2 separate regions of the Homo sapiens genome follow, and region 1 is linked to region 2. Evidence: fine-mapped expression QTL. Tissue or cell type: caudate. Region 2 holds a variant in brackets; the other region holds the start of a gene. All regions are shown on one strand. Distances are from middle to middle.

Region 1 (2,682 bases), 23 kb before region 2:
GGGGAGAAACAGACTGGAGAATGTTAGTCCAAACTGAGACTGCTCCATTTTGTAAGCTCCCTGCAATTCTTTTTTTGAGATGGAGTCACTCTGTTGCCCAGGCTGGTGTACAGTGGTGCGATTTCGACTCACTGCAACCTCTGCCTCCCAACAGGTGTTTCTCCTGCCTCAGCCTCCCAAGCAGCTGGGATTACAGGGGCCCATCACCAGGACCAGCTAATTTTTGTATTTTTAGAGGCGGGGTTTCACCATGTTGGCCAGGCTTGTCTCAAACTCCTGACCTCAGGTGATCTGCCTGCCTCAGCCTCCCAAAGTGCTGGGATTACAGGTGTGAGCCACCACGCCCGGCCTAGCTCCCCACTATTTTACAGGCCTTGGTCAAAGTGAAACATTTCACGGGGGTTCGGGCCAGAGAAACAGCCTGCCTAACCACCTGACCACAGGGCAGACGAAGGCCCAATTAAAGACAAAGACCCCACTAAAGAAACATCCCTATCACATCCTGCTGGGCAAAGGTCCAGGGAATACCATGATTATATTCTGTGGAAACAAGGGCCAAAAATCACCTCATCATGAGAACATCTTATCGATATCCTGCCAGGCAGCAGGCCATACAGCCCAGACTCCTCCCATCCATCCCTATAAGTACCCAGCCTGTAAGTGGCAGTGGACTGTGGAATTAAGCTGATCCCCCACTTCCACAGGTGTCTGCAATATACCTGTGCTTGCTGTTGAGCTGCCCTGTCTCTCTGTGTGTATCTTTTTTTTTTTTTTTAACCCTCTCCTTCCCTCCAAAGCCTAACAGAGAAGAGATGTGGCTCTGGCCTGTGTGTTTCATTCTCAAGGTAAGATGTTAAAGATAGGTGGAGGAGTGTTTTCAGAGGGCAGCTGTCAGCGCCCACTTTGGGTGGCCTCACCATGACCACTTCCTTCTTCAGTTCCTCCATATTGCGCTTCTGTTTTTCCCTCTTCACCATTTTTTTCTTGATAAGCCCTTTTTTAGGTCTTCGTCTTGGACTCTGGTCATGGGGAGCCACTGTCCCTTTCTTCCCCCAAAGCCCCATAGCTATCCCCAGAAAGAGCTGCCCGAGCTCAACTGTGGGAAGAAAGCTGAGAGAGTGAGGCAAGGGGAAGGGAAGAGGGCGCGCGGGCAAGGGGGCCACGAGAAGAGAGTGGTGGGGAGAGAATGAGGGAGCAGAAAGAAAGAGGCAGGGAGGGAGGTGTTGGGTGGTGAAGGTGAGAGAGAGGAAGGGAAGTGAGAGAGGAGAGACTGAGCGGTCCTCCAGCCGTCCGCTGGGAAGAGGAAGAGTCAGGAGTGAGGGAAGAGGGAGGAGAGAAGCCTAGGGTGGAAGGATAAAAAGGTAGAGGTGAGGGAATGCAGTGAGGGCAGGAAACAAGAGGTGAAGCGTAACCAGGTGCCTCAGTGATGAAGATGCCGCAAGGCCCACAGGAAGGTGGGAAATGCAGTGAGAGTGAGGAGGCGGAGTGAGCTTCAAGGATCTGGGAACCCCCCAGTCCCAGGCCCTGTGGTTGCTGGGGCAATGACCCAGGTCTGGCATCACAAAGGCCTCCTGAAAGTTCTAACCAAGAATCCAGAAGTCTTGCCTTGGCGATGGTCCAGGTCTGCTGTCGCAAAGGCCTCATGAAGGTTTTAACCAAGAACCTAGAAGTCTCAGTCTTTGGGTTTGAGGACGATTGGAGCAGGCCCTGCTACAGAAAGAGTTTCAGTCTGAGGGCAGAACTAGAACAAAGTTCTTGTGTGGTCCTGCAGACTTTGGAGGCTTAGAGGTATGCCAAATAGATGACTCAAAAATAAAGCGGGTATTCGGCCGGGCGCGGTGGCTCATGCCTGTAATCCCAGCACTTTGGGAGGCTGAGATCGAGACCTTCGTGGCCAGTATGGTGAAACCCCATCTCTACTAAAAATACAAAATTTAGCCAGGTGTGGTGGTGGGCACCTGTAATCCCAGCTGCTCGGGAGGCTGAGGCAGGAGAAACATCTGAATCCAGAAGGCAGAGGTTGCAGTGAATTGAGATTGCATCACTGCACTCCAGCCTCGGTGACAGAGTGACTCCATCTCAGACAAACAAACAAACAAACAAACAAACAAACAAACAAACAAAAAACCATAGCAGGGAGCTTACAAAATGGTGCAGTTGCAGTTTGGACTAATATTCTCCCGTCTGTTTTTGAGACTCCATCTCAAAAAAAAAAAAAAAGCAGGTACTCTGTGTGTGTTTTTTAGCAAGGCACACTTTTCCACTAACATTGGGTTTGATCTTTTAATTTTAGGAGATCAGCTAGCAGAATAGATCAGATCTTGGGCTCTGGAACCAGTCCTGGATTTCAATCCCAACTCCTCCACTTGTCAGCTGTGTGGCTTTGAGCAAGTTACCTAACCTCTGTACCTCTCTTTTCTTATTTTTAAAAGAGGATACCTTCTACCTTAAGTGAGGTGCTCTACAAAAAGCACTATGTGACATATATAGTATGTGCTCAATAGGTAGCTTGAATTCAGTAGTAGTTTTATTTGTGGATTAATATGCAGCTCTTCTCAGTGAGGGTAAAAATATGCTTTTCCATGTGATAGCGTTGCATTTTCTCATTTTAAAATGATGTACTTACCTCTTCCATTGACCTTCTCTGGTGTCTCAGTAAGTGCTTTGACTATATTAACTGTA
Region 2 (2,682 bases):
TGGCTCTGGGGGCTGTCTTCTCGCTCGTGGATAGACAGCTGGAGAGACAACAGGTAGTTACAGAGAGGGCCATACTTGTCTTGGTAGCGCGGCATAGAGCAGCAGCTGGTAAGGAAACCACCTTAGAAAAGTAGCCCCAACCCATCAAAGATTGTCAACAAAGAGAATCTCCTTGTGCAGGGGGGTGTTTAGACCTCACAGTTCCAACACTTGTAACCTGAGAGCCACCTCCGTAGGACAGTCTTTCATTCAACAAATATTTATTGAGGTCAGGTTAAGACAGGCACTGTGCTAGGGGCTGAACGGCTCCCTCCTCAGCATCCCCACCACCACCTGGCCTCAGGGGGCTTTACCTCTATGGATAATAAGGAATGCTGAGATTGCATTCTTGGCATTTAACAGGTGCCTAAAGGCTAAGGGGCACCATAAAGGAATTACAGAATTATGGTTTCACTGACTGGGGTAGAAGAGTTGGAAGGCTAGGCCAGAGGATGCGGAGCTATGGGAAGAAGAGTTGAGAGAGTGACAGATTGTAGTAAGGGATGGAGTAAGGTTTGGGAGCTGGGGCTAGTTGCAATCAGACATGCAGTCATATGAGCTGTCCTGGGGGACTTAGCAGGGGGAGGGAACATGACCCTCAGACACCCCCACTCCTGCTAGTGATGATTCCCCTTGGCTTTGTCCACCCTCACCCATTTATATCCCTCTCTCTTCCTCTGTCCTGGCAACCCAAGCAGACCTGGTACTTGTTGGTAGAGTTGAAAGGAATCTCTGCCACCTTGGGGTTTCTGTCTCTCATTTTCCTCACTGAGCCACAGGAGAGCTCAATGCACTTGAGCAGAGCTGACTCAGAGGCATCACCAGCTGTGTCCCGCTGCCAGAAGAGACAAGAATTCAGTGTCAGCATGGGAGGGAAGGGAGTGGAGGATCAGGTGAAGGCGGCACTGAAACCCCCAAGGCAGCCACATCATGTGAGAAGGAAAGCTGGGGCCAGCAAGAGGCTTTGGAGACACCCCCAAAACATACCTGGTGTGTGTCCTGACCCCCTACCTTAGACACGGAGATGTTCTCCTGTCCTGCCTTGAAGACGGCGCGGTTGCAGAGACCAGCAATTCGAGACAGGGCCGTCCACGTAGGGGATCGTTTGTCAAAAGTGGCCCCTGGGAGGAAATGAGGGGGAACCAGGAGCGTGGCTCCCTTTAGAGCCTTTATCTCAACCACTCACCCCACCACGCCACTGCCCTCAGCCTCCTCTAATCCTATCCACCCCCTCTGGAGCACCCAATCACCAGACTGATCTTCGGTGGTGTCAGCCTCATGGATTTGGTTGTCGAACCACATGTGGGCGACGGTCATGCGGTTCTGGGTGAGGGTGCCCGTCTTGTC[C/T]GAGCAGATGGTGGACGTGGAGCCCAGCGTCTCCACCGCCTCCAGGTTCTTCACCAGGCAGTTCTTCCGTGCCATGCGCTTGGCTGTCAGGGTCAGGCACACCTGGTAGAGAAAGAGGAGAATAAAAAAGGTTAAGGCTGAAGCCGGAGATGGCCATAACCTTACCCTAGACCGTGGCTCCATTCCTCCTCCCCTGATTCTACTCCACTAACTTGAATGGGTGGGACTTAGCTGTAAATAATGAATGTTCAATTTTAGATGTGTTGAGATCATGAGTATCTGTTAAGATGAAATGCCCATTAGGGGGTTTAAGACGTTTGACTAGAGCTCCAGAGAGGGCCAGAGCAGAGCTGAGCATAGGGATGTCTGAGTCATCAACACAGAAGGGACACTGCAAACTGGGAGGAGATTGGCTCTTGCTCAGGGTGTAGGAAGAACAGACAGCTGAGGCCTGAGAATCAGTGTAGGGGGAGCAGGAAGGGACAGAGGAGAGGCGAACCAGGATAGTGACACATCACAGCAATCGACAAAAGAGAGAATGGTAGGAGGGTGGACAGCAGTATCTGTTTCAGCAGCAGAGTTAGGGAGGAGAGCTGAGAAAAGGTCCCTGGATTTGCTAGTTAGTGACTGGTGACCTTTGAGACAGCCTCTACAGGAGACTTGGACGGAATGAGACCCAGACTGCTGGCAGATCGTGAGAAAAGGCAGCCGTGACAAGCTCCAAAAGAGAAACTGAGTGCCTAAGAATAGCCCCACCTGAGATTTCTCAACTCATACCCTAAGCCATGTATTAAGTGATCTCTGAGTATCGCATCCAATAAGTGACTCTAGGGGGAAAAAGTAGTGAGAAGCTACAAGCAACTGTGCCTCTATCACTCTGAGGAAAGAGTAGTGAGACCCTCCCCTGGTGGCACCTCAGCCTGACCCACTCACAGTGACAGTGGCCAGAAGCCCCTCAGGCACGTTGGCCACTATGATGCCGATGAGGAAGATGACTGCCTCCAGCCAGCTGTAGCCCAGGATGAGGGAGAGCACGAAGAAGGAGACCCCCAGGAATACAGCGACCCCTGTGATCAGCTGGATGAAGTGTTCAATCTCCATTGCTATGGGTGTCCGCCCAACCTCCAGGCCTGAGGCGAGAGTAGCTATGCGGCCCATCACCGTCCGGTCTCCTGTGGCAATCACAATGCCCCTGGCAGTGCCTGCAACATGGTGGGGCATCAGGTTGGGTGCCTTGTGGCTCCCAGGGACTGCAGTCCCATCCTATTTCCTGAGCAAGGAAAATCATCACAGGAT

The links. PIP is the estimated chance that this variant, and not a neighbour inherited with it, causes the effect.
Region 1: it holds the start of ATP1A4, and the variant in region 2 is fine-mapped to the expression of ATP1A4 in caudate (GTEx, PIP above 0.99). The same link has a PIP of 0.9 or more in neural progenitor cells, prefrontal cortex and skeletal muscle.

The regions. Positions count from the first base shown.
Region 1 is chr1:160,150,423-160,153,104 of GRCh38, reverse strand. It overlaps ATP1A4 (ATPase Na+/K+ transporting subunit alpha 4), which reads right to left and starts at 1,502. Exons shown (of 22, transcript NM_144699.4): 1 at 918-1,502. The coding sequence starts at 1,064.
Region 2 is chr1:160,127,458-160,130,139 of GRCh38, reverse strand. It overlaps ATP1A2 (ATPase Na+/K+ transporting subunit alpha 2), which reads right to left. Exons shown (of 23, transcript NM_000702.4): 8 at 2,320-2,588; 9 at 1,290-1,488; 10 at 1,051-1,160; 11 at 740-874; 12 at 1-38. Among named protein-coding and RNA genes, the nearest start is that of ATP1A2, 13 kb to the right of the region's middle. The variant C/T (reference allele first, on the strand shown) is at 1,387.